2 separate regions of the Homo sapiens genome follow, and region 1 is linked to region 2. The links come from fine-mapping of genetic effects on gene expression. A gene starts in region 2. The other region holds a variant in brackets. All regions are shown on one strand. Distances are from middle to middle.

Region 1 (12,855 bases), 180 kb after region 2:
ACCCCGTCTATACTAAAAATAAAATAAAAATGCAAAAAACTTAGCTGGGTGTGGTGGCGGGTGCCTGTATTCCCAGCTACTTGGGAGGCTGAGGCAGGAGACTAGTGTGAACCTGGGAGGCGGAGCTTGCAGTGAGCCGAGATCGCGCCACTGCACTCCAGCCTGGATGACAGAGTGAGACTCTGTATCAAAAAAAAAAAAAAAGAAAAGAAAAATCAACGTACTTTATGTTCTTAGGTCCCGCAATTTCGCCTAAATATTTGCCCTGGCATGCTTATACTAGTCCAAGCGGGCGTTAGGTCATAGCCTATTCCTCTTCCTTATTTGGAGGTGTTTTCACCTTTCTCAGCATTCCACAAGTTACTTCCTCCTCCCTTTGTTCTCCTCTACCTTTGCTCTTTTAAAAAGTTCTAAGTTGCTAGCCAATCAGGACAAATACAGAAAGCGAGGTCCTGTTCTGGCCAGTGGAAACCAGATACAGCAGTAAGGTGAACGCGTCAGGTTATAAATGACCCTGTCTCCTTTGTTCGGTGTACTCTCCTGGCAAAACTGCTGGTGAGTGTACCCTTTCTGCAGAAAGTAAAAATGACCTTGCTGAGAAAATTAAATTTATGTTCAAGTGCTATTTCTTTACAGCACCAAGTAACAAGCATTTCTAACAAATGTGACCCATACAAGGCTGAGGGACCTTTTTGTGAGCTAGGACAAGGAAGGGCTTAGTGGATGGCCATGGGCAGGTTCTCAGTGCGCTGGCTCCCAGCTGTTCTCTAGAGAGGGAAGGCCACACCCAGCCACATGCAAGTCCAGGGCTGACACAGCTTGGAGGTCACAGCTGCCCCAGGGCTGCGGAGTCCTGACTGGATTCTGAGAGGAAAGCCATTCCCCTCCCCTCTGCAGTGCCTTCTGCTGTCCCTATGCAGGGACCCTGGCCTGCAGAACACTTCCTGCAGGTTAATGAGCAACCCCCTGCTGGCTCCCCATCACCATGCCCAAGGTGGGGAGCTGAGAATGTCACACCCCTCCTGGGGCTGCCAGGGGATCAGCAGCCGTATCTGCTCTCCAACTTCCCAATGGATCACAGCCCTCCTATTAAGTAACTTTTGTAGGTCTTGGGTTTTCCTCCTGACTGCTCTGACCTGCTCATCTTGAGTTGGAAAGAAGTGAGGGAATATCCCGTATTCCTTGCGACTCCCCCTCTGCACCACCTGCCTTTATATGAGAAAATGCACAGCTCTTCATCAGGCCTTATTTCTAACTCTCCCAGCTTCCTAGAAATCTGGGCTATTGCCCCCCTCCCCCCGCCCCCACATTCCTGCACTAGCAGCTCCACAGCGGTCACCTTCCTCTGTCTCCTCTTTTTATTTCCAACAAGAGATAATATCTTAATGGGAGAACGGAGTGGGGCATGGCAGAAGCGCTACAGAATCTGAGTCCCACAGGTCATGCTAGAAAATAGGAAAGGACTGAGGTTAAATGACAAGATTGCCAAGAGAACCTCAAGGAAACTGCCGATCGCTTTGAAGGTGAACTTCATGGGTGACCTTGAGATGAGTATGCCTGGCAGCCCCTCCCTGCAGTCATGGGGATGTGCACTTGACCAGCCGTTATGCTTTGCAGCAATTCTAAAAGGAGGTGGCAAGGGAGCCCCAAGGAGGGGCTGATTAATTATTTGTTAATTAATAATAGAGTACCCAAATTTGTGAGTGATTTACTTAAACAGACAAAAGCCATTCAGTTTCACCTGGAAAACATGATTATTCCCTCTCTGATACACTTTTTGAAGAAGACAGAAGGATGGAGTTGCAGCTCTTGCACAGATGCTGCTCAGAGGCTGGCACCTTGCATGTGAAACCCATGCATATGAAATCATGGGGCTTGGGGCCAGTAAAAATATTGATGGCTGATGCTCTAAGGCACTGTTCCTTAAGAGAGAATAAAAATGAGCCACCTCCAGCCTGGGCAGTGTGCTGTGATGGTCAGGAGCAAAGGTGAGAGCGGTGGGGCCCACTCTTGATTCCCAAACACAGATGCCTAGTGGGAGTAAACAAACGGAAAGATGCCTCCACCTCATTAGTAGTGGGGGAAGTGCAGTTCAAAACCATAGTGAGACACCGCTTCACACACACGAAAGACGGCTGTTCAAACAAAAGGAAAACAAATGTTGGCCAGGACGTGGATAAACTGGAACCCTTGTTCATTGCTGGTGAGAATGTAAAATGGTACAGCCACTGTGGAAAGCACTTTGGCTGTTCCTCAGTAAGTTAAACAGAGGAATAACAGGCCAGGTGTGGCGGCTCACTCCTGTTATCCCAGCACTTTGGGAGGCCGAGGTGGGCAGATCACCTGAGGTCAGGAGTTTGACACCAGCCTAGCCAACATGGCGAAACCCCATCTCTACTAAAAGCACAAAAATTAGCTGGGCATGGTGGCGGGTACCTGTAATCCCAGCTACTCAGGAAGCGGAGGCAGGAGAAGCTTGAACCCGGGAGGTAGAGGTTGCAGTGAACTGAGTTCGTGCCACTGCACTCCAGCCTGGGCGACAGGAGTGACACTCCATCTCGGAAAAAAAAGAAAAAAAAAAGAAAAGGAATAACATATGAGCCACAATTCTCCTAGGAATATACCCAAAAGAATTAAAAACAGGCCGGGCATGGTGGCTCACACCTATGATCCCAGCACTTTGGGAGGCTGAGGCGGGCTGATCACTTGAGGTCAAGAGTTCAAGACCAGCCTGGCCAACATGGTGAAACCCTGTCTCTACTGAAAATACAAAAAATTAGTTGGGCGTGATGGTGGGCACCTATAATCCCAGCTACTCAGGAGGCTGAGGCAGGAGAATCGCTTGAACCTGGGAGGCAGAGGTTTCAGTAAGCTGAGATCGCACCACTGCACTCCAGCCTGGGCGACAAGAGCAAGACTCTGTCTAGAAAAAAAGAATTAAAAACAAGTGAATAGTACACAAATGCTTGTAGCAGCTCTGTTCACAGTAGCCAAAAAGTAGAAACAATTCTAATGCCCATGAACAGATGAGTGGATAAGAATGTGGTATATACATCAAACATTCGGCCTTAACAAGGAATGAAATACTGATGCATGCTGCAATGTGAGCAAACCTTCAAAACATTATGCTAAGTGAAAGCCAAACACAAAGATCATATATTGTTTGATTTCATTTATATGAAACATATGGAACAGGTAAATCCATAGAGTCTAAAAGCAAACTGGGGTTTGTCCAGGACTGGGGTGGGGAAAGGGGATTGGGGAGTGTCTGCTTAATGGGTACAAGGTCTCCTTTTGGGATGATGAAAACATTCTGAAACTAGATAGTGGTGATGTCTGGATGATAGTGTCAATGTACTTAACACCACGGATTGTATGCTTTAAAATGGCTAACACGGTTAATTTTATGTTATTACACACATTTTGTTATCATAATTTAAAAAAGGAAAACAGCCAATGCTTGATCTGGCTCCGGGGTTTCGGATATGCTTGGATTGGTGTGCAGCCTGGGTGTGTGCATCATTAAAGCTCCAGGGAGTTCCGTGCAGCTGAGTTTTCGAACCTCTGCCCCAGAGCCAGCCTGTCTGGCTCCACCACTTCCTAGTGTGTGACCTTGGGCAACCAGTAACTCGCTGTACCTGAGTTTCCTTAGCTGTGAAATGAGGACCATGTAATTACCTTCCTATAGAGCTGGTATGAGGGTCAAGTGGGTTCATATATGTAAAATACATGTCTGCACACGAATCTATCACCATTTTCTGAGCCTGGAGTTTAGATTTCCTCCCTAACCGGCTTAGTTGTTCTCTTTGCACCTGGCAGGTGTCAGCTCACATGCCGCCCAGGTGGAGAGACCACACTTCTGCTAGCCTGGGACAGTCCCAGCAATGCTGATGTCACTGCATTCTTTCCCATTAGGCTTACTTTAGATCACTTGAAAAATAGTTCTATTTTGGATAATAAATTATGTGGCCACCCTCTTAACCCTCTTCTATAGCATGCTACATATAGGTAGTGATGAATGGTAAGTCCCTTAGAAGATTAGAGAGGGCAACATTATAAACAGTGCATCAGAGAATTAGTCTGCTCCCCCAGAAGAGAGGCTCTTGAACCACACAGCTACTTTTCCTGCTTCTTAAAAAATAAATCCTACTTTTCTTGAAAAGAAGTTTTGCCAAGGAAGAAATCTGATCAGCTTTTTTCCTCCACTCATGACTCAGTTACCTGGAGTTACAGGGAAGCCTTCCTGATTTGGTACACGTTTTAGAAACAATCATATTTATTGCACAGGAATTGTTCCCTTTTTTGTTTTGTTTCTGTGTCCTGTAGTGGTGCCCTTTCAGTCGGCACCCAGACCTGCCCCATGCACATCTACAGCCGAGTTTCTCATTCCTTTCCTGATCTAGTCCATGGTATTATTAAAATGCTCATTAACAGAATGCCCACTTAACACGAAATACTTGGTTTCGTTTGGAGAAATCCATTTATCTGGAGGAGGGCTACACATAAAGTATCACTCTTGATGAAGTATAGAAAACTGAACTTATAAGTCAGTTATTCAAAATGTGTCACCACATAAATTATGGCAAATTTTACATGTGCATTTGAGAGGGAAAAACCTTCCCTTTTTCATTAGGATTGTATTATTTTTATAAGTTGGAACCTCATTTTTCCCTGAAACTGTATCTAATTGAGTTTGCCTCAGCTGAAATCTCGCATCTGACCGCAAGCAGTCACACAGACACACACACACGCATGCAGATTGAGGCATGCCCTGTGAACATCCTTTCCCTGATGCTCTTCTCTGCTGCTGCCAAGCCCCCACTCCTTGCTTTTTAATTCTGGTCAGTCACTATGCTGCACATTATGACTTAACTTTTCATAACATTCTCTTGCCTTATCCTTCCCCTTTGATGCCCTTCCTCTTACTTTTCCTCCTCCACCTGCCCTGATGAAGTTTGCACCATGCACTGCATCTCTCCCTCCCCCTGGCTTGGCTGGAAATGAGCTTCTGCGGTCTGCTGTGGCCACTGTCACAGGATCCTGCCTGCCTGAGGACACACATCGCATGTCATCCATCTTTGAAGCACCCCGGGGCTCATTTCCTTTTAATTTACAAGCTTTTCAGAAACTTCTGCCTTTCTGAAATTGTCATTGTTAAGCATTCTAAACATTCAAATGCCTGGCAGATGGTCCTGCTTCATAAGACTGAAATACTGTCTGATAGCTCACCTTCAATCATGTCTTCCAGTTATGTTAAGGGAAAATAAAATACCAGCTCGGGCGCTGTAGCTCATGCCTGCAATCCCAGCACTTTGGGAGGCCAAGGCGGGTGGATCACTTGAGTTCAGCAGTTCGAGACCAGCCTTTCCAAGATGGCAAAACCCTGTCTCTAGTAAAAATACAAAAATTAGCCGGGCGTGGTGGCACGCTCCTGTAATCCCAGTTACTCAGGAGGCTGAGGCAGGAGAATCCCTTGAACCAGGGAGGCAGAGGTTGCAGTGAGCCCAGACCACACCATTGCACTCCGGCCTGGGTGACAGATTCTGTCTCAAAAAAAAAAAAAAAAAAAAAAAATCAAATACCAGTTGGATACTCTTTGTTTGCTCATTTTAAGAAAATGTCTTGCCAGGCGAGAAACCATCAGAGAGCTTGTGTGACACGGTATTTTGTTGGCTGAAGTATGCATCCAGACCAAATAGCTTCTGCCACTTTTCTTCTTCTAAATACTTAAAATGCCATCCCCCAGGCATTCCATGGGGTACTTGGCCAAAAAAGAGCGATCATTTCCTACTCGCCTCACCCTCTAGAAATGAGATTCCTAAGTTCCATTGTCCTGCCCATTCATGGTGATCAGTTCACATGAAGCTGGCATGCTTCATGGTTCTTTCTTTGCCGCTTCCTCGGAATCAGTGCAGGATTTCCAGGATGCCAGAAGACAGCTCAGGATTTGGCTCAGGGATTCAGCTTAAGGAGTGTCTGTCAGGAAGGCTGTGCCCTGAGGATAAGGAAATGCAAAGACAAAGACAGAGAACACCCTCTTGGGAAGGAAAGTTGGCCTTGCCCTTACCCAAGACTGTGCCAGCCACCACAGATGAGAAGCAGCATTCTCCCCATTCTCACCTCACCAGGAGCTTTGACAGACCTGAGCTGCTCTGCCCAACAGACCCCAGGGAGTGCCCGTTCGCCTCATCTGGTTTATGTCACATTGTTCTGCCTTGAGTCCTGTCAACACCTGTATCTGAAGAAAAGCCAGTGTGGATAACAGGTTCTGGAATCTTCCCTCCCACTCGATTCTTTAACAAAGCCTTAAAAAAAAAAAAAAAAGTTGTAAAGCCTTTCAAAAGGGGGCAGCATCGTCTAAGGAGAGGAGGCTGCAGGCAGCAACAGGAACATATTTCTAGTTTCATCTTTCTAGTTTATTCTATCACTAGGGAGCTGAGCCATCCTGAGTAGCTCTGTCTGGGCCTCAGTTTTTCTAATTTATTATATCACTAGGGCACAGAGCCATCTTGAGTAGCTCTGTCTGGGCCTCAGTTTTTCTCACCATCAAAACAGCAAACATCATGTCCTTCTAAGAGGATCTGATCCCATTTAGAAGAGCCTCTGCTGAGAGGATTGTTGATTGCCAGCTCAGAGTATACTTATTGTAACCAAAACATATCCCTTAACCTTGAAACAGAAATCAACATCTGAATTCCTCA[A/G]TAGCCATGTCAAAAGATCTACTCAGGCTTTTAGTAGACTTGATTAAATGAGTCAAGGTATAATTGTATTTGTAGGATGGACACCTTTGAGAAATGGAAACAAAATGACCATTTCTCTTTTTTTTTTTTTAAATCGATTTAAACAGAAAGATTTCAGGTACAGCATCTCCTGTTTGTCCCTGGAAGTGTATTGTGCAGTACAGTAAGGGGTTGAAGTACACCAAGCCCCTTTTTGTTGTATGAACAGATTGATCCATCTTAGGCTGTGTGATGGGTGTGCTCGTGAGGCAGCTCTGTGAGGATATCTTCAAGAATTTTGGCAAAGGGAAATGGACCATGGCAGTCTGTGCTGACTCGAAATAGGGATGTTTACGTTGAACATGCTCAGCTTCTTGTCTGGTACTGATCTCTGATCAATTATAAGTCAATGAGCGAGGGAGACAACGTGTTCTCTGCGGTACCTGTGAGCCCTGAAAGTATTCCAGGAACACCCTGCACTCTCAGTGCCCTATCAGGTTCTATGGGGCACTTGTGCTGTCAGGGCCGTGCCCCTGCTGCCTGGTGCTAGATCTGCATAGCTCCTTGTCCCTGTCAGTGGAGTAGTGTTTTGTCGTCACAATGAAAGTCAAATAAAAGGAAAATAAGCTTTGCTGAGATGAGTACATTTTAAACAGAAGCAATCAAATATGTACATATATATATACGCACACACACACCCATGCATACATAAATGTTTGTGTGTGTGTAAATTTAAAATTAGGACCCATGTCAAAAGCACTTGTGGCAGATGATACTGGTTTTATTTTGAGCTGGCACTCAGATCTGGAAACGGTTAGCTTCCTCTTCTTCCTGTCTTCTCTCCCCAGATGCGCGTATGAGAGTCAAATCACTGATGTTTTACACTGAATGTAAGGAGTTAATTGGCTATCAGTGGTGTGGTGACATGGACACAGAGAGTTTTGCATTGTCTTTGGTGGGCGCCATTGAATTCGACTATCCATTGAATGACAGCAGCTGGCCTGGAGGAAGTTTAAATCCCACCAACCTAAGTCCCATGAAGCCTGAGATAGAAGGTTCTGTTTGCTTAGTTTTCTTTTCTGTTATTCATTGCTTTTTCTTAATGATTTATCTGGTTGCACTTGCAACTCCTGAGAAAATTTGATAAGATCATGACTGCCAACATCTGTGGATTTTGGTGCCAACCTTTGGTGAGAGCTATGACTCACTTCCCTACAAAAAAAGAACTTGATATTAAAAACATGTATATATTGACAAGCTTGGACAGGAAATCAAACCTCTCTTGCAGGCAAGCAGTGGCCTGTCCCTCATGAACTTTGCCACTTTGTAGCAGGAGACAACCAAGGAAACTGGGATAATAGGGGGGGCCAAGCTGTTTTGACTCCAGACTGCATGCATTAAGCTCTTGGTTTTCCCTTTGACTTCGTATTGATATGAGTCAGGACTTTAAAGGACTCAATACTTCACAATGTTTTCCTCCCACATTATTCTGTGGATTGCTTTCTAAATTCTGCGCACAAATTCCAAAAGTAGGGAAAGAAGATAGAAATGAAGCACAAGTATTCGCTGGACAACATAAAGTTTTTGGCTTCCCATGGGTTGAAGGTTGAGAAACACTGTTGAGTAGCAGAACTGAGAAGAGGGTCTGGTGGCTCAGGACCACTGGACCCTGCAATCGACCTCCTTGGGAGCATTGTGGGAGGTGGGAAGAGATATTTGTTAATTGTGTAGAGCAAATTAGGGGAGAAAAATCATCTGTTCTATTGAAATTCAGTTAAGTTCCAGAGTCACAGATGAAGGCCTCATGAGGAGCCCATTGTCTGAAGATAATCAATATCAGAACTTCTAGGAGGACTGGGATGGGGTGCACTTCCGCCTTCTGACTTTCTGCCATTCAAGGTCATCTCAGTGTGGCCCTCATGAGGTCATGGCCACCCAAAATAGGTATCAGAGAAGAAGGAAACCACATATATTAGACACTTCTAATGTGCTTTATCTAAATTACTTCATTTAATGCTTGTAACAACTTTGAAGGAAATGGATTTTTCCCCATTTTAAAGATGGGGATGTACCTACTTTATGGGGTCTATTCCCATTCCTTACCTTAAAAAATAGATAATGCAAAATGTCCAGGATGCTTATGACAGCAAAAAAAATTATGAATTAAAACCTGAAATCAATATGAAATGGAAGGGGGCTGTAAAGTTCTTTTAAGGGAGTATTCTGCACAGACCTTCCTTAAGTGCTCAGGGCACTTACAGGACAGAGGTGGATTCACAGCAGTATTGATTGATCAGTCAGGCAGGCATAGTTGTGGTGAGGACCGAGGACAAGAGGAACTGGGAGTTCCATGTCTAGACAGGGTGGAATGAAGACAAGCAATTAGATATGTGGTTGTGGAATGCACTGCCATGGACATCGTGTTTCTGGGACGTCAGATGGGGCATGTGTGCTTTAGAGATAGCAGGTGGCATGGGTACAGGTGTGTAGTTCTTTGACTACCACAGCTTTAAGCATCCTCCAAAATGTGTGTTCACATGTGTGAGTGCACGTTTGTGAGTGTGTGCACATGTGCGTGAGTGTGTGCATGTGCAGTCACTGTCAGCAGACGTTATGGATGAGGAAACAGAACAGTGTGGAAGGTCCCAGTGTCCATGCTCTGGCCATATGCTAAGTGACTACTGATGAGGAAAGATGGGGTTTGCATTCCCCCTGGATCTGGGGGTGTTTGTACAAACCAGCCATCCAGCAAAACACCTTTCCAGCTCCAGAACTGTGAATAGCAAAATCCCTTCTCTGGTTTGCTTCCTGTGCTTCATTTAGTCTTCTAGATCCTGCAGGGTTAAATAAATCTTGAGTTGCATCTCCCTGAGTCCTCCCTGTTGCCATGGAGGTGGATGTAAGGCAGAGTTTATTTTGCATGGCTTATTTGCTTAGTAATGACTATGATGGCTGCAGAACTCAAGGACTCAAGGGAACAATTTACATTTTTCTGTAGGAGCCTAAATAGGCATTGACGAGTGTTCTGGGTGTTAGTTTCTTTTCTGTTATATCACCGTCACCTGTTTCCTATGGGAACTCTGCACCTGATAGCCAAAGCATCGGGCATCGTTGATATTCAGTGTCTGCAGGGAAGCACTAATGGCGTAAAAAGCAGCCTTCATGGAGTGCTTTGTCCTTTGGCTTTAATATTTAAGCACAAGAAAATCTGTGACTCAATTTTTTTTCAGGAAAACAAATGATAGTATAACTGGTAGAGCAACAGCATTTGTGTCTGAGCACAAATAATACTGGGCTATTGTTTAATATGATGGATTTCCTTTATATCTTCATTTTAAATATGGAGAACTAGTTGTTCAAATGAAATCTTACCCACAAGCTTATTATGTAAAATATGAAAGCATAGTGACCCAGAGGGTCATCTGTCTATTCATTGTCTCAGGAAGGTTGACTGAAGGGCCCTCCACCTACCAGGAACTGTTTGGAGCTGGGATTACATACAGTTCTCAGTAAAAATCAGTGATAATTACTGTCTTCATTGAGTTCACATCTTAATGGGAGACAAAGATACAAACAAGCAAGTGTAATAATCATAATAGCTAACACATATTGGGTACTTACTTTGTGCCAAGAACTCCTTTTTTTTTTTTTAAAGAAGTGGGATCTCACTCTGTCTTCCAATGACACCAGCATGGCTCACTACAGCCTCAAACTCAGGCTCAAGAGATCCTCCCACCTTAGCATCCCAAGTAGCTAGCACTAAAGGTGAGCATGACCACACCCAGCCAATGTGCCAAGAACTCTTTCAAGCTCTTTTACATCCAGTCACTCATTTGATTCACATGATAGCTTTGTAATGCAGGAACTATTATTTACCCCAGTTTTACAGGAGATAAACTGGGGTAGGGAGAAATTAAAAATTTGCCCAAGGTTTGTATCTTACTCCTGACACCAAAAAATACCTCGTCTAAGGTCAAAAGAAGGAATCAAACCCAGGTAGTGTCTCCAAGGTCTGTGGGCTTAACCCCTATACTGCATTGGCTCTCAGTGTTGACTGTGTCCATGGTAACAGGTGGAAGATCTGCCAGGGCTAGGAGAGAAGAGGCACCAGGACACAGCATGGTACCATCTTGTTTTCAGTTTGAAGTTAGAGTGCTGGTTCTGCTGGTTCCCCGAATGCTTTCTGCACTAGCACTTACATGATTCTATTAAGCAGACCTTAGGGAGAAAAAAGATTCAAAAAGTTTGTGTGTCCTGTAGCCTGCTCCGCCTGGTGTAGAAATTGTCCCTTGAGAGCAATTAGTGTGTTGGCTTGTATTTCTTTCAGCTTATTGGGTATCTGTCACTAAGTACGGTACTGATGGTCCTAGACAGTCTTCACAGCATACTGCTTATACCACATTGTCAGTTTTCATAACTTCTGAAAATTAGAAGAAACATAAGCCCCCTCCTGGCAACAAGTGGAGTACTTCCCAAGATGACCAAGACTGTTGGTGTCTTCCTCATGAAGATGTATTTCTTGATCAGTTCCTTCCTCTTTTTAGTGTCTAAGAGCTCATTCTGACAATGGGTTAAAGTTTTAAGGAGGCCAGTTCACACCTGCAGGTTGGTCAAGAAGTTTAAATGATTCTAGCTGCTAAGTGTTCTCTTAATGGCTTAAAGAGTCTGCCATGGCCTTCATGATTAAGAAAGGGAGCCTCACAGCATGAGTCTGTCCTGCAGCATCTTCTCCAGTTTTCCCTGGAAAGCTACAGGCAGGGCTTGCTCAGACCATTCAAGCTGACTGTAGAAACAGCTGCCGTTCAAGCTCAGGTGGACGGATTGGAACTTTGTCTTCATGTGAGCATTCATACGGGGAGAAGTCATCTCATACTGATTTGGTTTTCTGTTTGTCTCTTCCCCAACAGGGCTGTTTAACGACCCCCAACTCCCCATCCATGCACTCACGTTCTCTTACGCTGGGTCCATCCCTCTCGCTGGGCAGCATCTCAGGGGTGTCCGTGAAGTCGGAGATGAAGAAGCGCCGAGCCCCTCCTCCTCCAGGTTCAGGGCCACCTGTGCAAGACAAGGCATCGGAAAAGGTAGGGCAGTGGGCTGTTCTCACAACCAAAGCATCTTTTCAGTGACACAGTTGATTGTTCCAAAGCTCCCTGGGAACACAGTAATCCTTCATGTTTGTGGCTGTAGCGACTGGAGTGTTGGGGGCAAGTATTTAAGCTTTATTTAAAAGTAAAGGCAAGATGCCAGGAAGGGCTCATGATTTTAACTCTGAGAAGCTGAGTTCCCCAAGGCAGTCAGGATACACCCAGCAGCCCAGTCCTGCTCCCCACATACCCTAATATGTCAGATCCACCATGCAGCTGTAAAGATAAGGATGCAGTCTTCTTCCCTGGACTGAGATTTTTCTGACTGACTGCATCCCAGCTTCCTGTGGAGGCAGCATGCCACAAATGCCAACATTTACAGAAAGCAAATTCAGAGTCCATTCATTCTGTGGCAGAACTTTATTTCCTAACTCTTGCCGCATGTGTCATGTGGCCTAGCCCAGTTGCATAGTTTGAGAGTGTCACGCCCCTGCTAGTCTTTAGGTTCAAAGCCCCTTTTTGCTCATTTGCTCTCAAAATACCCTAAAAACTAAGTCTGTGCCTCCTGAATGTGAGGCTTGGTCCCTGGATCTTGATAAAAAGTTATAGCAGCAGATACCAAATGGCGGGGTCCTGACATGTCATGTAATTTCCTTATCAGCCTGCTTGTCGTTCTGTCCAGGTATGTCCGTCTGTCCATCTATTTTTGCAAGTCGGTCCTCTGGTCATCCATCTCTGTTCCTTCATGGTTGTTCTTTATCCCTGGGTCTCAGAGACCATCCTGCTTCCATCCTTAGTCCTTCATATCCCTAAAAATCTATCTGAAAAGCCTGTAGTGGAACACATTTTCAAAGAAAATATTTTTATTTTTGCATCTCTTAAATATTTTCTAGGCCGGGTGCAGTAGCTCACGCCTGTAATCCCGGCGCTTTGGGAGGCCAAGGCAGGAGGATCACCTGAGGTCAGGAGTTCAAGACCAACCATGGCCAACATGGTGAAATCCCGTCTCTACTAAAAATACAAAATTAGCCAGGCATGGTGGTGCACGCCTA
Region 2 (12,855 bases):
CCAAAAATACAAAAATTAGCCAGGCGTGGTGGTGGATGCCTACAGCGCCAACTACTCAGGAAGCTGAGGCAGGAGAATCACTTGAGCCCAGGTGGCGGAGGTTGCAGTGAGCTGAGATTGTGCCACTGCACTCCAGTCTGGGCAACAGAGCGAGACTCTGTCTCAATTAAAAAAAAAAAAAAAGAAAAGAAAAGAAAAAAGAAAAAGCAGCCAGTCATAAAAGGCCACATATTGTGTGATTCCATTTATATGAAATGACCATAGTAGGTGAATCCATAGAGACATAAAGTAAATCGTGGTTTCAGGGAGTGGAAGGATGGGGAGTGGATGCTAATGGACACAGGGTTTATTTTGGGGGGATGCGAATGTACTGAAATTAGACAATGGTAATGGTTGCACAACTCTATGTACTAAAAACCACTGAATTGAGAGAGGTGAATTTGATGGTATGTGAATTATATATTGATAAAAAGAAAGCAATCAGGCAGGGTGCGGTGGCTCACATCTGTAATCCCAGCATTTTGGGAGGCCGAGGAGAGCGAATTATGAGGTCAGGAGTTGGAGACCAGCCTGGCCAACATGGTGAAAACACGTCTCTACTAAAAATACAAAAAATTAGCAGGGCATAGTGGCGGGCGCCTGTAGTCCCAGCTACTCCCTACTCGGGAGGCTGAGGCAGGAGAGTCGCTTGAACCCAGGAGGCAGAGGTTGCAGTGAGATGAGATTGCGCCACTGCACTCTGGCCTGGCGAAAGAGTGAGAATTGGTCTCAAAAAATAAAAAAAAGAAAAGAAAAAAAGAAAGCACTCTACATAAATATTTCTTTGAGTTACTATTGTTAGTTAATGACCCCATGTAAAATATGTCCTGTTTAATAATGTACCATCCTGAAAAGAAAGTTATTCAATTCTCGCCTTAATGCAAACTTGAGAATGTAATGGGGAGAGTGGAAGGCTGGACTTGTGGGGCCCCAAACCTTTTCTCAAGGGTCTCCTTGGCCTAAATTCAACAGCTCCTCACTACAGACCCAAGCTCTTTCGCTTGTCCACAGCCACAGCTCCATAAAATGCCGAGCAGTGTCTTCTGCTGGAGAATTTACATTTTTCCCGGGGGTTTTAGGAAACAGAGGGAAGGGTTTCTAGAGCTGAGGTTGACTCGAGTACTGCAGCACACTGGCTGGAGAAGAGGACTTTGGATGCATGACTCTCCCATTCCCAAAAACAGCACCCCCAGCCGCCCCCCCGCACCACCTTGGCCCAGCTCAGGTGACATGTACACCTGCCAGAGCGCAATGACGGGTGTTTGGCTCTTGTTTCTGCTTTAAGTTCTTTTCAAGGGGCCAGGACTCTAGCTGCATGGTTGTGCAGGGAACTATGCACCAAAAGCAAGTGAACAAGTCTGAATAGTAAGAGTTATGTGGATTGATTGCTTACCAGTGTCAGGTACCACCGCAAGAAATTTGCACACTTTATCCCGTGTAATCCTCCCCCTGGGCCTGGTGAGTAGGCACTATTCTTACCCCCGGAAGGCAGAACTACTGTTATGCCATCACTTGCTCACTTGTTGTAGTAAAGTCAGCTTTGAAAAGTTGCAACTGGCCAGGCACGGTGGCTCACGCTGTAATCCTAGCACTTTGGGAGGCTGAGGCGGGTGGATCACCTGAGGTCAGGAGTTCAAGACCAGCCTGGCCAACATGGCAAAACCCTGTCTCTACTAAAAATACAAAAAAAAATTAGCCTGTCATGGTGGTGAATGCCTGTAGTCCCAGCTACTCGGGAGGCTGAGACAGGAGAATTGTTTGAACCTGGTGGGTGGAGGTTGCAGTGAGCCGAGATCATGCCACTTCACTCCAGCCTGGGCGAAAGAGTGAGACACCATCTCAAAAACAAAACAAAACAAAACAAAAAAAAGTTGCATCCATAATGGTTTAGTTTCTAAATCTGTGTTAGACTGCATGGGCTGCCATAACAAAATATCACAGACTGCGCGGCTTAAACAACAAAAATTCATTTTCTCACAGTTCTAGAGGCTGGAAGTCCATGATCAAGGTGCCACTGCGGTTGGTGAAGAAAGAGAGAGAGCTCTGTTGTCTTTTCCTCTCCCAATAAAGACACCAGCCCTATAGGATCAGGGCCCCCCCACCCTTATGACCTCACTTAAACTTACTCACTTTTCTAAGTTTCTATCTGTAATTACCCTTACACTGGTTACAGTGACAGTTTCTACTCTAATTACAGTTATATTCAACTTATGAATTTTGAGGGGAAACAATTCGGTCCATAACACATTCAAAATAAAGATCCTTTTGGTATCTAAATTTGCATTAATCATATGGTATGCTTTATTTATTTAAAAGGTCCTTACAATTTTGTAAGATTCAGGCCCTTTGAAATCTGGATCCACCCCTGAATATTCTCATTTTAGAGAGGAGGACACTAAAGCCTAGAGAGAAGTAATTTGCTCTCGGCAATACCACCAGTGAGTGGAAGATCAGGCCCGAAGATGCTCACTGTGTTTGACCCTAAACCCTCGCTACTCAAAGCGTGCTCCCTGGGCCAGCAGTCTCCACTTCCCTGGGAGCTTGTTAGAAACATAGACTCTCAGGTCCCAGCCAGACTCACTGCATCACGAACTAAATCTTAATAACATCCCAAGAAGTATCCACGTTTACGAAGCCCTGCTTTAAACTGGACTGCTTCCATCTGTGTCTTTGATGTGCTTTCTTCCTTTCATTTTCCCTCCAGAAAGAGCAGCTGGTGTGACTGCAGGCACCCACCTCGAGTCATGGAGAGCTGAGTGTACGCCGATGGGGGCTGTTGAGACCCCAGGTGTGCCTGGGAGGAGAGTTAGGAGCAAAGAAGGGGGATGGGGTTAGACCAAGGAGAGAATGTCCTTCAAGTAGCCTTACACCCTGGTCTCAGGGTAGCTCCTACTGCTTGGGGCAAGAGCTGATGCCACTGTAGTCCAGAGCTATAGCCAAGGGCACCCATTACAGCCCATATCAGGACACAAGCATGGTGTCCTGGGACAAAGAGCAGCACTCAGCCATGCTCTGTGGATGAAGGGGCAAAGGTTCTGCTTTCACGCATGTGGGAAGGCAAATCATGGAGAGTTGCGGTCTTGCTGCATCTTCTGTAACTCCCTGTTCAGTGACTTTACAACACCCTAGCTTGAAATCTGCCAAGGTGCGTTTACACTACAAAAACTGGCAAATGCTACAAATAGGGGCTCTTTTTAAAAAAATTTAAAAATATCATTTGTAAGCATTTATCAGCACATCCCTGGATGTTTGCCACACTATAAAATATAGATGATTTAGTGATGGTCGACATCTGAAAAAGTGGCTGAGTGTGGTTGCTCATGCCTGTAATCTCAGCACTTTGGGAGGCTGAGGTGGGCAGATCACTTGAGGTCAGGAGTTTGAGATCAGCCTGGCCAACAGGGTGAAACCCCATCTCTAATAAAAATACAAAAAATTAGCCGGGCGTGGTGGCAGGCGCCTGTAATCCTGGCTACTTGAGAGGCTGAGGCAGGAGAATCGCTAGAACATGAGAGGTGGAGGTTGCAGTGAGCCGAGATTGCGCCATCGCACTCCAGCCTGGGCAACAGAACGACTCCCTCTCAAAAAAAAAAAAAAAAAAGTGACAGTTTTAATAAGGACATTTAAAAGCATGTGCAGGAAAGAGTCCATAAAGAACACCTTTCCCTTTGAGTTTCCCTAGCGTGTGATTGTGCCATTTGCTCTGCTGAAGTCAGTAAGCACAGGAAGGAGTGCGTTCTGCTCAGTGACAAGTGGTAGGCTGATCTTGGTGACATCCTCTACAAGGCCCCACTCAGCCCTTTGCTTTCAGCCCATCACCTATTCCTCTTTCTCACTGTCTGTCTGGAAGAGCTCAGCCCTGTCTGTTACTGATTTCCTTGCCTAGCCCTCCCTATGAGGTGGCCACATCCACACCGCAGACAAAGGCTGGCATACAGTAGATGCTCAGAAATATCTGTTGAACTATACAATTTTGGAAAACAACTCCCCACAGTTGCATCTCTTGGGGCCCTTATCAGTCAGGGAAGTGTGGGTGGCAATATGCACAGAATCTGATCAGGTCCTAGGCCCCGCCTGCCCCCCCAGGCTCTGTGCCCCTCCCCACAGTTGACACAAGTGATCGGCAGTCCTGGCCCATTTAGATTGCAGGCCCTGGGTCACAGCGTGAAGCTCCTCCCTCTGGCAGAAGTCTGACCTTTACTCTGTGTCTCATCCTGACAGCTCTAACCAGGCTTAACCCTCCACTTCATTTCTGGAAACTGGTCCCTGTTGGGTTTCTGAGTAGATGTCTGGGGGCCTTCCAAGGATCTGAGGTTGTCCAGGCCTAGGGTCACCTGGGCCTTTTTCCTAGAACAGCAAGTTGCATCTTGGCCTGGAGGTGGCACGTCACCTCCTTCTCATTGTTTTTCTGGATGTTGAGGAGCTCTCTTACTCTTCACCATCCACCTGCTTCGGGCTTCCTGTTGCCATCTGTGCTCAGCATCTGAGACACTGGGTCACTCCGGGCTTCTTTTGCTCCATGTCCCCACCATACTTCCTCTTGCTGCCTCTGCCAGGTGCTTGGAGTATGTGTCACCTGTGAGGTGGACTTCTCCTTAGGGATTTCAATGGGGTCTGGCTCACAGTGCCTAGTCTAGTTTTCAGCTCTGGCCCCTCCTGGGCAGCCCTTCCCATGGTGGTGTCCAGAGCAAGGAGGGGCTCCCCAGATTTTGGGAGAGACTCTCTAATACCCACACCCAAGGTGCAAGAAGAGATTCATTCATTCAGTGCACCCTTTGTTTACTGAGCACTGACTCCACCCTGCTAGGCACTGCCCTAGATGCTGGGGGTGATAAATCAGACAAAGGCCCAGCGCTTGCTAAGATCACATGCTAGGGAGGAGACCAATGGCAAACACATGAGCAAAATATATGCGGAATAGGATATGTTATTTATGTTTTTTATTCCATTTATATATAATGTATATACATATTTATAAGTTTACATAAATACAAATTTTATGCATTCATATAAACATGTCTATAAATATAACACATTACATGTAAACATTTCTTTATAAACTTACATTTAAATATAAACACACACATATATACACACATACACATATACACACACACATATATATATACACATACACACATACACACACACATACAGTGACAAATGCTCAGAAGAAAATTAGGACAAGGCAGCAGTCAGGAGCTTGAGTGAGAGCTGCTTTTATTTTGTGTTTTAAGACAGGATCTCACTCCATTGTCCAGCCTGCTCCCCACTCGCCGCCCCGCCCCGTAGCTGGGATTACAGGTGTGTGCCACCATGCTCCGCTAATTTTTTTATTTTGTAGAAAGTTCTCCCAGGTTGCACAGGCTGGTCTCCGACTCCTGAGCTCAACTGCTCCTCCGGCCTTGGCTTCCCTGAGTGCTGAGGTTACAGGTGTAAGCCACTGTGCTCCGCAGGGTGCTTTTAGACAGAGAGGCCAGGAAAGGCTCCTTGGGGAGACCACGGGATGAAAAGGAGGAGGAAGAGCACTGTGGAGCAGCATCCCAGCCAGAGGCCCTGAGCCGGGAAAGCGCTCCACTCATGGGAGGCTGGGCTGCAGGGAAGTGAGCCCCAGGGCCACCTGGGGACTTAGGAAACCTTCTAGGTGGGAGCAGGGAGCACCCAAGATCTGCCAGCCACGAGTAAGGACTCACATTTTGCATATAGACTGGTCTGCCCCCCCTTCAGTTAATGAGAAAGCAGGGGATCAGAGGGAGGAAGGCTGCGCAGGCCTCTGGATACCTCATCCAATGACAAGATCGCAAGGGGAGCGTCACCCCCAACGCTATCAGGCTCGCCCGATCTGGCCTCTTGTTGGTCTTTTATTCGAGTCATTGAAACCATATGAAACTGCCACTTTTATAGGTCAGCCCATCATACCAACCAAGATCTTAGAGAGTGGAGGTGAAGTTGGGCAGATAAGGGACCTCTGGCTGACTTGCTCTGGGCCCCGGCGTGGCCGGCAGGACCTGCATATCTGCCCGCCAGCCCGCACTGGAGTGGCAGGGTTGTGCCACAGTAGCGCCCAGTGAATCAGGTTGGCAAACTTAAGCGAGCATTCACCTAGAGCGAGTGAGTTGTTAGCAAAGCGAGGCCGCGCTCCAGCCCGCACTGTTTCTGATTCCGTGGGACCTGGTGGGCCCCAGAAATCTGCATTTCTAACAAGTTCCCAGGTGTTCCTGACGCTCCCGGTCGGGACTCCCACTTTGCGACCCTACGCACTAGACATTTGCTGCACGGATAAAGGTCAGAGAGCGGTGCCGGACACTCACTTCTCACCCTCCAACGTCAGTCCTCCCGGGCTGGTCCGCCCACCTCGCCCTCGCACGGCCTCCAGGCTCCAGGTGGTTCCCCTCCCCCAACTCCGCCAGGAGGCGCCGGCCCCGGGATCCCCCACTCCGCCCAGAGAGGGTCGCGCTCCCCCCAGGGGTGGAGGAGCACGGGGAGAAGCCCTCTGCCGCACCCGCGGGTGTCGGTGCAGGGCCCAGGTGCCGGAGGATTCCTTCCCCGGACGCTCGCCGCGGGCCGGGTCGGGACTCTGAGCAGGCGGGGCGGGGCGGGGCGGGGGCGGCGCTCCGGTGGGCGCGGCAGAGCAGCCGGGGCGGGGGCGCGGCGCACCTTGCTCCCGGCGCCCCCGCCCCGCGCCGCCGCCAGCCCCTCCCTGCGCTCCCGGCGCCCCCGCCCGCTAGAGACGATTCCAGCCCCTTCCGTCCGCCGCGCTCCGCCGCTGTCCTCCGCCGGCCCGCGTGGGAGGACGATGGGTCAGCGCGGAAAAAGTGAATGAGGGCGGCAGCGGTGGCGGCGGTAGCCAGCGCCTGACTCGGCGGGCCCGGAGCACCGCCCGCGTCCCGGCCCCCGGCACCATGGACGCGCCGCGCGCCTCGGCGGCCAAGCCCCCGACCGGGTAAGCGGCCCCGCGGTCGGGCGGGGTGGAGAGGGGGCTTCCCTGGGCTCGGACGCCCGCGTCCGCACCGCGCGCTCCCGGGCAGGGCGCCCTCTCTGCCGCCCCAGCGGGTGCTGGTGGTAGTGGTGGAGCAGGTGGTGCGGTGCTGGTGTTGGGTGCTGGTGTTGGGTGGTGGTGCGTGCTGTGTACTTTGGGCACCCGGGTCGTTGCCCAGGTAACCGTGTCGGGCCGGGGCCGGAGCGCACTTTTCGCGCGGGGTGGTTTGTATGCAGGCGTCCTTATGGGGGTCCCCGCCAGCACAGCCCCCACTCAGCTCCGAGCTTTCCTCAGGCCCCCCAAGTGTTTGCCGTAGGGGTGGAGCGGGGAGCGAGGGGACGCCCGGCCTTTGACTCCGGCCTCTTCCCTGCGGGCTTGCCCCTGGCCGGTTCCCATCAAGTCTTCCCTCTCCCGGCCTCGGCGGCAGCCCCAGGATCGGCTCTCCCGGCAGCGTGGAGGGGAGGGCTCCCCGGCTTCGCAGCCGCCCGGGCCCCGCGTTCTCGGAAGGTGTTCGGATTGCCCGGAGGGTTTCATGGCAGCAGCTCTCCCTCCCTGCCTTTATTCCAGGGTCTCCCCTGGCAGTGGAAGGGGCGTCCTAGTGGGGCCAGGCCTGAGGCGCAGACATCCGTAGCGGACCCGCGAGTCTGGCGGCCCATCCCTGTCTTCGCGATTCCGCTTTTGCCCAAACCTCTCCCGGTTTCTGTTTGCTATCCCCACACCTTGCGTGCAGGGATTACACGTCACATTCAGGATTTGACTCTCAGAAAGAGTAATTTCCCTCAAACAGGACGAGCAGCCCTGCTCATTATTCAGACCCCGAGCCAGGTGCGCCGTGCTCATCCCGGCCAGCGGTGCAGGCTGGGCCGCGGGGTAGCGCGCAGTCCCGGTGGACTTTGTAGTTTTCAGCGCGGCGCGCCGGGGACCTTCGAACTCGCTCGCTCGCCTGGAGCAAATGTGTATGAGTCTTGCAAATGGAATGAGGGTTGGGGTGAGCCCTGCACCTGCTTACTGAATGGGCCCACTTTCTGCTATGGCAACTGGACTTGAAGGAGGCAGCTTTGGGGACAACAAATCTTTTTTTCTGTTACAGTTGTGTCCCACTGACTCACCCTGCCCATGTGCCCATAGGCGGGCGTGTTGCCCAAGTGTGTAAAAGACTTTCAGTCGGGCTCTTTTTAAAATTTTAAAGTTTTCCTTTAATGCCAGGAAAAGGTGAGCCAGGTTAGCAAATCAAATAATCCTGAAGCTGAGGAATGTTAAAAAGAAGTTTTCTTTCTCTCTCTCTTTTTTTTTTTTTGCAGTGCACTTACTGGTGGTTATATAATTCTCTTTGAACAAACAAATTCCCCAGAAAGAAAGTAAATGTGGGAAATCCTTTTTCATGGTAATAGGCATCCCAAAATAACAGGGAAATGTGAAACAGAGGTATCTTTAAATCTGTGGCTTTCATAGCCTATTAAATGAGCCTATTTAAGGACACTGAATTATTTTGTCACTATCACCTTATAAATAAATATGAAGACAGAGAGAACATTTAAAAGGCCGGCAAAACTGTATCCAAAGAGTATCTGTAAGATCCTTGAAGGGAGTCTAATGATAGAAGTGAAAGGACTTACCCTAAGAGCGTGGCACTCTTTTCAGCCTGGTACTGTGTGGCAAGAGGTAGTCGAGGGCTGGCCTTCTCAGGGCTTCCCAGAGCTCTGATTGGCTTTCATATTTGAATTGCAAAGTAAAACTAAGGATTTTTGCTATGGAAAACATGAAATTATTCCTGATGCATTCAGTTCTTTCCCTCACTCATATCCAGTGTCTAATTTACTTGTCCGAACATCTTTGTCCAAGAAATGTAGACATATTATTTTTAACTTCTATTGTTCTCACTTTGTCATTTGTTAATACTTTCAGTGAAGAAGCATCAAGAAAATGTTAATATCCTTATATTTTTTCAGACAAGAATTACGTGTTTAATAAGCAATTTTGTGTTCAAATCTGAGGAGATAAATGGTGTTAGGTCTTCGAATATTTTATATAATTTAGGTGTATGCTTGCTAATTATAAAGGTTAGATATTGCTGTGAAATTTGTGGCTTTAGTACATTATTGGTGGCAGGCAGATTCTGTTGGCTCTTCACTGAGATTACTCCTCTGTTCCCTGAGATTAAGGCAGTGTTTGCAGTGTGCTTGAGGGAAATTTGTTTTCCATCTGATTCTGCAACCGTTTATTATAAAATCAAACTTTCAGTAAGCCTCTGTCTTCCCACATGATAACAAACTGATGTGGTGAAGCTGTTGCTGTTGCTGAAACTACCACTCCTCCTTGTGTTGTATAGAAACAAGCTAGACTGGGTGCAGTGAATTAACGAGATTTCACCCTGTGGCCTACAAACGCTCTTCTAGAAGATTACTGAAGGGAGATAGGTTGGTGAATGTAAACTCACTGACTCTGTGTCTGGCTAAATTATTAACAGGTAGTTATTAGTTATCTTTGTGAAAAACACAAATATACGTTTTTACTTGGATTGAAATTGTATGTTTTTTACTAGGAATTTCATTAAAACAGTGATGTATGACTTCCTTGACTCCTGGGGAAAGTGTTCTTTTAGGAAAGAGGCTGTGTGCAAAAACTAACAAGTCAGACTTGATGTGACTTTTAGGGAGTTTTAGAGCTCAGTTGAAGTATAAGAATTGACAGAATACTCAGAACACAAGTAAAGGCAAATTGCCTTTTGGTGAGGTTTTGAAGTATATTTAACTCTCTACTTTATCTGTTTACTTTGCGTTTGTCTGAATATTTATAGGAGCCATCCCAGTAGTCGGCTGTTACAGAACACAGGGCTAAATTTCCCATTGGACCCTCTGTTAATAAAGGACAGAAGAAGGCTTGCTGTTTGGCAGGACCATGCTTAATTTTTTTTTTCCTATGGAGGAAAGACATGTTTCTGTAGAATACAGTAATCTCCAATGACATGAAATGTCAAAACAGCTGGTGCATTTGATCAATGGCTGTATTCAAGCAGTTTGCTCATGTAAAAATCAGTGGAAGTTTTGCTAATCAGTTTCGTCAAAATGTGGACTTCATGTACACATAGCTGTTATTCATTTCTTTGCATAAATTTATATTTATTTAATCAAGTTATTAGAACCAAAAGAAATTTTAAAAAATTAATCGAAGTGGGTAACTTGAGCTACTCTAGTCCTGTCGGTGCCGCACATAGTATTAAGTGTAGAAGGCCTGTGACTCTTGGTAGTGACATGGGGCAGCCACAGTGACATTTTGTATGAAACCCTCATAAGCATGCAGATATTAAGAAAATATTAACTCTACACCATAATAGGAAGCTTAGGTTTCTAGGCCTTTGGCTTTTGGCTAACATGTTAGAGAAAGTGTTTACATTCTTTCAAATGAGAGCATGTATAATGAACTGTTACATAAAACTTTTCCCGTTAGATTTGAGCATTATTTTTAAAAGATATTACTTCTGAGCTACTCTTTATTTTGGCAATTCATTTAAGAAAGTAAAAGTTAAGAATTGCTTGATGTAATGTGGAGAGTAGGCCTAGGAATTTTAATGTTTTGTAATTAAAATATTTACTAATAAATTAGAAGAGTTGGACATTTCTGTGTTGCAATATCACATAGTCTCAGAGCATTTTTATTATTTCTCAGTGGTTCTATAAAGGGGATAGAACTGAAGTATGATTAAAATTTGTTACAAAGGTATTTGTTAAGTGTTGCATCTCTCCTGCCCCCAGGAACTTTTGCCTGCAGTCCCTCCTGTGTTTTCTCGTGACCTCCAGTGCACAGGTGGAGTGGATTATTATTGAGTGGAACCTTGACCCAGGCAGAGCGACAGCCCCCACGTATATGCAGGCCTGGATTCTGTGGACTTCTTAATTTGGGATCCAGGGAATGAAGTCATAATCTGTGTCCACGCAAGTGCTCCTGTAATTATTAAGAAAACAATGATTATAGGATGCATCTATACACCGTAATAAGTAGTTTAGGTTTCTAGGCCTTTTGTGCTTTGTTATAAATTTATGATTAAATTTAATTTTGTAATTGATCTGCAGTTTTGAAAAGTGAGCATAAATATTTGATACCAAAGTAGTATTAATATTTAGATCAAGGACATACAAATGTGAAATATGCTAACACTTGGTTCTGATTTAGACTTGAACTTTGTAAATACACTAAGAGTTCCTGTATTTATTTATTTTTTTGGTGGGGGGACATAATCTCACCATGTCACCCAGGCTGGAGTGCAATGGTGCGATCTCAGCTCACTGCAACCTCCACTTCCTCGGTTCAAGCGATTCTCCTGCCTCAGCCTCCGGAGTAGCTGGGATTTACAGGTGTGCACCACCACACCCAGCTAATTTTTGTATTTTTTTTTTTTTAATAGAGACGAGGTTTCACCATGTTGGCCAGGCTGGTCTTGAACTCCTAACCTTGTGATCCGCCCGCCTTGGCCTCCCAAAGTGCTGGGATTACAGGTGTGAGCCACTGCCCCCGGCTGAGGTCCTGTATTTATTATATGGTGTTTTCGTACATTCCTTCATTCTCTCCCCATCCACATTTAATTATGAAGGTTTTATGCGTTGGTTAATTTTAATTGTGTGGTTTTTTTTTTCAGTTACCTTATACTATAGCTGAAAAAAAGTTGGTATTTCATGACCCACTGAAAGCTTTTACATATCTTCATCTTTGTACTTTTTCTTTATTTAAAATACTGTAGTTATTGGTTTATATTACTACATAGAGATGTATTGATAATATGCCTTTTTACACTTTTATGATTTTCATTTATTTGAGTTGTAAATTTTAGTTTCCATCTCCCCCATTTTATACTTTGCTTTCTCGCTTCCACCTTGTCACTTGAGTGTTTCTGGATTTTTCAGGGCCACTCCCTGGCTTTCTGCTTCTGAATTGATGGGAAGCCTACGTCACTTTTCTTTCAGGGTTCCATAATTCCTTATTTTTCATCTGTCTCTTGCTGGAATAGAATTAAAACTTTTTTCCTCTTGTATACTTTATATGATTCTAGTTGCTTCTTGCAAAGCTAAGGATGGTCAATACTTTCAAGACCTAGTGCTATTTATTCTAGACTAGAGTTTGCTGTCTCCTCTGGTGCGACAATAGACAATGGGTTTCCAACAGTGTGTGTATTTTCTGCTGCCTATCTCAGGGCCATCCCTGTGCTTCTGAGCCAGCCCCTCCAGAGAAGGATGGCTTTCCCCAGCAGGGAGAAACCCTGTGGCCTCTTGGGGTGTTAGCACGCTTCCCTCTGCTCTCCTCATCAGGTGGCGAGCTGCTCCCTGCCAGGGCATTGTCTTCTATAGGCCAAGTCCAATTAGAGTAATCCCCCAGCTAAAAACATTTCTATTAAAAAAGAGAAAAAGCTTTTTAAGCAACTGCCAGAGTATATTTTTCTTGGATACATTTGGTTAGACAGATTCCCAGACCACAAATACTTTTGTACAAATACTTTTGTAGATCCAGTTCCCACCTGCACCACACCAAGTGATGCCTGTAAAAAGGACATCAATTGATTTAGAGAAACCAATAAAGTCCTTATCCCTTAAAAAAAAAAAAAATACAACCGGCCGGGCTCAGTGGCTTACGCCTGTAATCCCAGCACTTTGGGAGGCCGAGGTGGGTTGATCACGAGGTCAAGAGATCGAGACCATCCTGGCCAAGATGGTGAAACCCCATCTCTACTAAAAATACAAAAATTAGCTGGGCTGGTGGCACATGCCTGTAGTCCCAGCTACTTGGGAGGCTGAGGCAGGAGAATCGCTTGAACCGGGAGGCAGAGGTTACAGTGAGCCGAGATTGTG

What was found.
Region 1: its variant is fine-mapped to the expression of COBL in blood mononuclear cells (TOPMed, PIP above 0.99).

The regions. Positions count from the first base shown.
Region 1 is chr7:51,135,103-51,147,957 of GRCh38, reverse strand. COBL (cordon-bleu WH2 repeat protein) reads left to right here. Exons shown (of 13, transcript NM_015198.5): 6 at 11,627-11,800. Among named protein-coding and RNA genes, the nearest start is that of COBL, 180 kb to the left of the region's middle. The variant A/G (reference allele first, on the strand shown) is at 6,702.
Region 2 is chr7:51,310,720-51,323,574 of GRCh38, reverse strand. COBL (cordon-bleu WH2 repeat protein) reads left to right here and starts at 6,766. Exons shown (of 13, transcript NM_015198.5): 1 at 6,766-6,982. The coding sequence starts at 6,942. LOC124901633 (a long non-coding RNA gene) reads right to left here and starts at 6,591. Exons shown (of 2, transcript XR_007060324.1): 1 at 6,351-6,591; 2 at 5,243-5,528. RefSeq lists enhancers at 5,322-5,914, 5,915-6,508.